Linked DNA regions of Homo sapiens. The protein of the gene in region 1 purifies or fractionates together with the protein of each later gene. This does not show direct contact. Each region holds a gene or a part of one and is shown on either strand. Other genes may lie near its edges.

Region 1 (4,446 bases):
AGCTTTAACATAGTTATGATGAATATATTTTACTTGATTAAAAATGATAAAACCAGGGAGCCTTAAATATTATCTTAAAAGATTAACTACTGTGTCAATTACAAATCTAGGAGAAAGATATTTATAAAGGAATAACTATTCTAAACAGTAACTTCCTTTTGTTCATTTCATTTAATTAATGACTCAATCAACTTTCACTCTTAATACTAAAATTTTCCTAAATTACACATTGGTTTGCAAATGGGATGGCATATAGCAGGGCTACGTCAATTTAATACTGGTGAAAATTCAGCAGATAATTCATTTTTCATTTAATCAGGAAGGAAAAAACTACTTGGCAGTGTAGAGCGACCTAATTAACTAAATAACTGCCAATTCTACATTGTACTTTGTGTTACATGACATATCATGAATAAATACCAGTCAAAAATCAAATTATTTGGATACTTAAATGATGATGAGGCCTGCTGTGCCAACAGGTATGCTAATGAGTAGACATCTCCCAGCCTCAAGACTGAGTGAATGAGGCAAATATTTTCACCTCCCAATCTTTTAGGGTGTTCAATTAACTCAAGTATTTAAGAAGTTCCCTACTATTGGGAAGGAAGTAGATGTAATCATCTATATGCTTATTTTGTCAACTGAGTTGGAAAAACTTGCAAAGGAACAGTTTGGATATATGTATTAGATTTTTATCAAAATACAAATAAATGGTCATAGATGACAATTTTCACCTAAGGAATACAAGTAAGTTTATCTATGTTCAGTTACCAATCGCCTCTAACTAAAGTTAACAATGTCTTCCTTCTAAAACCTTTCTAAAGAGCACCCTGCAATCACACCTTCTAGCAACAGCCATTTCTCTTGAATTAGTAAGGTGGCTACACCGCCAATTTGAGCTGTTCTCCTTCAGTCCTGTAGTCCATCGCCAGGGGAGTCTCCAAATGCTAATAAAAATCAATTTCCCAGACAAAAGAACATATACACGTTTTTTTCTTTCTTTCTTTCTTTTTTTTTTTTTTTTAGAAGAGGGTCAGGGAGCATCTGACGGACGTTTTTAAAGGAAGGGGACAGCTACTTCCATGGGACTGCATTTTAGTTGTGCTAAAAGTGATGAAAGTGGGTTTGCATTATTCTACCACCAACACCCAAACCACCTGCCCACGGAAACCCCCGCCGGAGACCGAAGTTTACCCAAATAGCGCTCGGCAAAGCGCTGCCATAAATTCAAAACTAACTCTGCCGGGCCCGCGGGGGTTGCGAGACAGGGACCGAACGTGAAACCCGGGGAGCCCCGCGTCTCTTGCCTCCGAAGGTTTTCCGTGATCAGTGTCCCCTTCTCTGCTGGAGTCGGAAGTGCCTGTCACCTGCGGATCTGCCCGACTCTCCCGGTCGGCCCTTCTTCTCTGCCCAGTTCGGACAGTCTCGAATTCCCCGTCGCAGCCCCGGCCACCTCGGACTCCCTGGTCCCCAGCCCCCGCCCCACCCCCCGCCTCCACCACGTCCCCTCCCCGCGGTCCCAGCCTCTCCAGGCGCTGCTGGGCTCTGATTGGCGGCTGCGCTGACAGCAGGCGGGGCCTGGAAGTCGCGGCCAAGCCCGCCCTCGCGTATAAGCCCCTCTCAGCGCTCTCTCTCCATCTCTCCCCTCTCTTTCTCTCTCGCTGCTCCCTTCCTCCCTGTAACTGAACAGTGAAAATTCACATTGTGGATCCGCTAACAGGCACAGATGTCATGTGAAAACGCACATGCTCTGCCATCCACACCGCCTTTCTTTCTTTTCTTTCTGTTTCCTTTTTTCCCCCTTGTTCCTTCTCCCTCTTCTTTGTAACTAACAAAACCACCACCAACTCCTCCTCCTGCTGCTGCCCTTCCTCCTCCTCCTCAGTCCAAGTGATCACAAAAGAAATCTTCTGAGCCGGAGGCGGTGGCATTTTTTAAAAAGCAAGCACATTGGAGAGAAAGAAAAAGAAAAACAAAACCAAAACAAAACCCAGGCACCAGACAGCCAGAACATTTTTTTTTCACCCTTCCTGAAAACAAACAAACAAACAAACAATCATCAAAACAGTCACCACCAACATCAAAACTGTTAACATAGCGGCGGCGGCGGCAAACGTCACCCTGCAGCCACGGCGTCCGCCTAAAGGGATGGTTTTCTCGGCAGAGCAGCTCTTCGCCGACCACCTTCTTCACTCGTGCTGAGCGGGATTTTTGGGCTCTCCGGGGTTCGGGCTGGGAGCAGCTTCATGACTACGCGGAGCGGGAGAGCGGCCACACCATGCGAGGTAAGCGAGTCTGCGGGCACCGAGGCTCCCCGAGTCCGGCCAACTCCAGCCAGACGGGGAGATGGGGGAGGGGAGGGCACCCAGCAGAAAGGGAAAGAGGTTGCCCAGGCGCAGTTCCCCGAATTCGCTCTCGCAGGTGGGGCTGCAAATGGCCTGGGCGTAGAAAGTTGCGGGAAGGTGTTGATGTCTTTCGGGAGTTCTGGAGGGACGCGGGAGGGCGCTTTTTTGGAGAGGGGAGACAGGCTAGTTGGTTCTTACCAGTCCTTGAGTTGCACTGAATCTTTTTTGCTTGTCGCTCTCGGGTGCGGAAGCGGACGCGGGATGGAGAAAGCCGAAAGAGGGATGCCTCTGGACAGGAGCAGTTTGGAAGCGCCCGGCGCGCAGTGGTCGCCGGCCGGGTTTGGGCGCGCGGGGCGCACCGGCCGGGGGCAGGGTGGACACGCGCGGGCACACACTCGCCAGGTTACGAGGCCCACTAAGCGTCCTGGCCAGCAGGCATGTCCCTTCGCTGGAGTAGCAAGCAGAAGAGCAGTGCTGCGAGGCTGGACGCGGCTGAGGAAACAGTTAGTTCCCCGGCACGCGGCTGAGGAAACAGTTCTGCGGCGCGCGCCTTCGTGCCGGCGCTGCGCCCTGGCCAGGTCCTCGTGCCCGAGCCCGCGCGGCCCAGGGAGTAGTGCGACCCCGGAAAAGTTGTAATGAGAAAGTTCTGGAGGCTTGGAAAGGCCACACTGCTCACAGTCGGAGAGTCATGGGCTCCGGCTCTTTTGTCAGATAAAGGGCCGGTAGTGGAAGGAGGTGCTGGTGCACCCTCGGGCCAGGACCCTCGCAGTCGCAGGCGGTGGCGGCGGCGGCGGCGGGACCCCGGGGCGAGCTGGGGTCTGCAGGGATGCGCGCCAGGGACTGTAGCGTTACGCTTGCTCCGGCTGGACTCTGGGCCTCTCGAAGGGCTGGAGGGTGGGTTTCGGGGAGTCACTTGGTCTCCTCTCCTGCCTTGCCGGAGACCTCAGGTTTCCTTCGCGCTGTGCTCGGCCTTTCTTCACTCTTTTACTGAAGAGCCAGGCGGGTGTCCGCTTGACATGGGGATCTGTGCAAGCTCTGGGCACCCACCCCCACTCCCAGTCCCTCTTCCTGGCCACACAGCGGTTAATCGGGGGCTCTTCTCTATCCTTCGCACGTACCCCTGGGTCTTGACAACAGAAAGTTAGTAACGGCCAGCTCCAGACCTTCTTGCATCCCAGACCCGGAGAGAGGTGGTCTAGGCAGGGAGCACTTGGGAGAGTTGGGATGCAATCACTGGTCTCCTCCTTCCACTGAAAGTGATCCTCTCCCACCCAGTCCCCCTACGCCCCTAGAGGAGCACCCCAGGAGGCAGCGGGTCTCACTCCCACTCCCTCCCGCACCCGGTGAGCCCCGAGCCTGGACTCAAGGGTTTGCTGGCTGGACGCTGGGATGTGTCAGGAAAGGGAAGGAGAAGAAGGAACGGAGAGAGACTGTCCATGGGGGAGGGGGTTGACTGTAGATAAGAAACAAGGACGTCCTGATGGGATGGTCTTGATTGGCCGGCTCGCTGGGAGTGGGGCACCCGTGTGTGTGCGCGCTGGCTCCAGCTGATTGTCCCGGTTGGGGGTTGGTTACACGCTCCACTGTCTAAATTCTTTCAAGAAACTATACTTGGGCAATTGGAGAGTAGAGAACCTTGGCTTAGTAAGAGACGCCCGGTCTTTTGTTTTTCTTTTTCTAGCCCATCTCACCATCCCATCCATTCTTTCGGTTTCCCCCGTCCCAGTCCAGAGCTGCCAGTTCGTCCCTCCCCTTCTTCCCTTCTAACTTTCCCCCTGTGGCTGGGTTCATACTTTCTGAACGTCGTAAACTATGCGCCACCTCAGCTCGGACCCAGCACTAGGACCTAGGGCATAAAATCCGCTCACTCCTTACATCGTAGAAGGAGTGCGGCGCGGGGTGGGGATGGGTTGTAGCTTGATCTAGCATCTCCTGAAGGAGCAGTTTGCAGATGACTGTCCTGGTTCGCCACGGCGGTCGCTTTGAGGACTCCAGAAGCTGGAAGGATTGAAAGCCAGGCGCTGGTCCTCATGCTCACCTTGAGAAAACCAGTTTAAGCCCACAGACCTATCAAAGAGGGCGCCAGCCTCGCCAGGCGCCC
Region 2 (3,808 bases), on another chromosome or scaffold:
TTTGAGGTGAGAATACTCCACCTAACTTCTCTGATTTTATCTCTTTTGTCTGATTTTGTCTTATCTCTCCATGTTGTTCAGAAGCAATTTTTTGTGAGTGACTTTTGTGCTGTCAGAACACGAAGCAGCTACTCTAGTAAGAATCCTCCCCTGGAATTTTCCACTAAAAGTAGTTGGCAGTAAAACATTCCAGGGCAAAGGAAACCAGCTTAGACCGTTCCATGCTCTGAGCTGTGTCTGGCAGTTTTCCTGTTTAGGAAGCAGTGATTGGGGGATCTTTCCGACCTGGCCGGTAACTTGGGCTAAGATGCTATCAAAGCATTTCTTTCCAAGTCTGGTGACACTTCAAGGCAAGAAAATGAGTGCTAAATTAACTGAGCATGCTGCCTCTCCTTGCTGACCTTCTTACCCTCAATTCAATTGTCATTTGGTCTTGAACCCCACAGATCCCCCAGGGAGTCCTTGAGCGAAACAATGTGATCACTCTGAACATAACAGGGAAAGCTGGAGCCACTCTGGACCTTCTGGTAGAGAACATGGGACGTGTGAACTATGGTGCATATATCAACGATTTTAAGGTAGGACAAACCACACTGTCAAGACTAAGGTTTAAGGGGTGACAACTTAGAAGTTGAAGCCCAGTACAGTGGCTCACACCTGTAATCTCAGCACTTTGGGAAGCCAAGGCAGGAGGATCACTTGAGGCCAGGAGTTCAAGACCAGCCTGGGTAAAATAGTGAGACCTCTACAAAGAATTAAAAACTTAGCCAGGTGTGGTGACATGCACCTGTGGTCTCAGCTACTCAGGAGGCTGAGGCAGGAGAATTGCTTGAGTCCAGAAGTTGGAGATTAAAATGACCTATGATCATGCCACTGCACTCTAGTCTGGGTGACAAAGTGAGACCTTGTCTCAAAAAAAAGAAGTAGTTGAGCTATTTTGAAGAGCTGTTTTCCTCTGTAGGTGATGAGAAAGTTGAGCTTTGCAAACAGAACCTTTCCCCTGTGTTTGAGTTTGGTCATCCTATAGAAAGAAACAGAAGGAGGAAGCCCCTCCACCATGCTTTTCCTCTGCTTTAAAAGACCACCAAGCTCACTGAAGGCACTCCTTTGCCAGTAAAGCCAGCTGAGCCTCTGTTCTGCCCTGTTTTATGGGTTTGGATGGTTAGCCTGTGGCAAACTCTTCACTTGTAGGAAGCCTCTTCCCTTGGGGCACTGGCTCTCACCTCTGTTGATTACTCCTGTGTCCAGATGTGTAGCCCAAATAAGTTTTTCTAACACATATTTTTAGAGCATTATTCAGCAAGCATTTGTTAAGCTCCCACTCCGCGAGATGCCCCACCAGGTGCTTTGGGGAATGCAAAGGTGTCAAGAGACAGGCTTCTCTCAGGGAGCTCAACCTCCGCGAGAGGAGAGAATGCCTTATCAAGGGAACAATGGCACCACCCAGGCTAGGGCAGGACAGGTGTCTGGGGCTATTTCCTGACCCTCTTGAGATCAGGCAATTACATCTTAGGGAACTTAGGGAATAGCTGTGTGCAGGCCACCTTTGCCTCCAGTATAAATGTCTCTCTCATAGTTCTTGTGCTCAGGGTGGACTTCATGGCCTCCTGCCTGGCTCTCACAGGCCACATTGACCCATGGGAGTGACTCGACTCTGTTGTGTAGTCTCTGGGTCTCCAGTACCTGTCAAAGAGCCTGACATACAGCCACCTGGTTAATATTTATCAAATTATTAAATGGGCAATCGAGACTTGGTATCTGGGATTCCACTGGGAATGGGGAAGTTCCCTACATACAAGCCAGGGAAGGGGAAGTTAGCTGAGCCTTGACAGCCCAGCCCTGGCCTGTGTGGAACAAATAGAGCAGCTTCTGAATTCAGGTCTGAGGTTTGCCATCGTCATCATTACCTTCCTATCCTCTTAAGGTATCACAGTATTCTCATGTATGTTATCTCACTTGGCCCTCATAACAGGTGAGTGACTCGGGTGTGGTCCTCCCTGTGATGATGGCTGAGGTGCTCAAGGCCAATATTTGCTCCTGGCTGCATCCGTCGTACCTGCTCCATCCGCAGTGGGATGACTATTCCTTTGTATCCCACACTCACTCATTCCTTCTGTCCCCAGATTCCATCTTGAGACAGGATCTTGCTGTCACCCAGCCTGGAGCGCAGTGGCACAATCTCGGCTTACTGCAACCTCTGTCTCCTGGGCTCAAGCAATCCTCCCTTCTCAGCCTCCCAAGTAGTTGGGACTATACGTGCATGCCCCCACACTAGGCCAATTTCTGTATGTTTTGTAGAGACTGGATCCCTTTTTGTTTTGAGATGGAGTGTCGCTCTGACACCCAGGCTGGAGTACAGTGGCGCGATCTCAGCTCACTGCAACCTCCACCTGTCAGGTTCAAGCGATTCTCATGCCTCAGCCTCCTGAGTATCTGGGATTACAGGCACCTGCCACCACACCCAGCTAACTTTTGTATTTTTAGTAAAGATGGGGTTTCATCATGTTGGCCAGGTTGGTCTTGAACTCCTAACCTCAAGTGATCTGTCTGCCTTGGCCTCTCAAAGTGCTGGGATTACAGGCATGAGCCACTGCGCCTGGCCCATCTTTCTTGGTGCCCATCTTTCTCTATTCTAGCAGTGGCTCTCAGCCAAACTCTGAAAATTTGGGAATTTGGGATCAATCACTCTAGCAACTCAATGCCCTTTCTGTAGAAGCAGAAACTCTGGGCCTTTTATAGAGACATCATGACCTGCAAAGGAGAAAGCTATAGTTTGGGGAATATATCTCTTCCCAAGGATTTGTAATTCAACCTCCAGTTAGATCTGTGTTACTTCGATGTACACATATTTCGAGGTTCATTTCCTGTTGGTGTTTTGTATCCCGGTTTGCTTTTCCCATTTCCCTGGAATGCAGAGACATGTGAAGCCTTTTTCCTTCCCTCCCCAGCTCACTGTGCTCTGTTTCTGCTTTGCAGGGTTTGGTTTCTAACCTGACTCTCAGTTCCAATATCCTCACGGACTGGACGATCTTTCCACTGGACACTGAGGATGCAGTGTGCAGCCACCTGGGGGGCTGGGGACACCGTGACAGTGGCCACCATGATGAAGCCTGGGCCCACAACTCATCCAACTACACGCTCCCGGCCTTTTATATGGGGAACTTCTCCATTCCCAGTGGGATCCCAGACTTGCCCCAGGACACCTTTATCCAGTTTCCTGGATGGACCAAGGTACGTGTCTTCATGGGAAGGGTTTGAATTCAGGCCTAAACTTTTGGTTGTTAGTGTCTGAGAAAGAATCACAAAGAGCTGTTAGTGAGATATCGTGTGATGGTTTTGAGTGTGGCGTTTCGGACATTCTTCAGGAGGCGGATTGTGGCAGATCTTCAGGGATTCAGTGGCCAGCTCGGAGGTGCTGCCATCTGCCCCCTTGTCATTGGCTTCCTGTAGTGAATGACACCATCCTGCCTCCTCCAAGAAGAATCATGACCCCTTTTGATGCTGATTATAGGGGTGCTTTCTCTTTATCTTGAGGACAATCCAGTCAAGACAAAGAGGTGGATCCCTCTGGGAGAGTCTGTCTGGTTTTCATTTATGCCAAGCCCAGTGCTCCCAGAATATCCCCACCTGCATCCAGCCCCACACCCCTGGGGCTTCTATCATAAGCTGTCTGCTTCTCCACTCTTCCTCATCCATTTTCACTTCCCAGTCACTCCGCCTTGTCGTTTGAAGACATTGGCATATCTTCCTTCACCGCCTTCTCCTCTCCCTCATGTCCTGTTTTCATCCTAGATCACCTTACCATCAC

What was found.
Region 2: the proteins of RORB (region 1) and GLB1 purify together in Homo sapiens (affinity purification with mass spectrometry, with the first as the bait; one large-scale study listed by BioGRID). This does not show direct contact.

The regions. Positions count from the first base shown.
Region 1 is NC_000009.12:74,495,699-74,500,144, forward strand, and holds the start of RORB (nuclear receptor ROR-beta), read left to right. Parts: upstream 1-1,636; 5' UTR 1,637-2,278; coding exon 2,279-2,285; intron 2,286-2,543; exon of another isoform or gene 2,544-2,855; intron 2,856-4,446. UniProt on the Homo sapiens protein: Nuclear receptor that binds DNA as a monomer to ROR response elements (RORE) containing a single core motif half-site 5'-AGGTCA-3' preceded by a short A-T-rich sequence.
Region 2 is NC_000003.12:33,013,479-33,017,286, reverse strand, and holds part of GLB1 (beta-galactosidase isoform a preproprotein), read left to right. Parts: intron 1-446; coding exon 447-578; intron 579-2,976; coding exon 2,977-3,231; intron 3,232-3,808.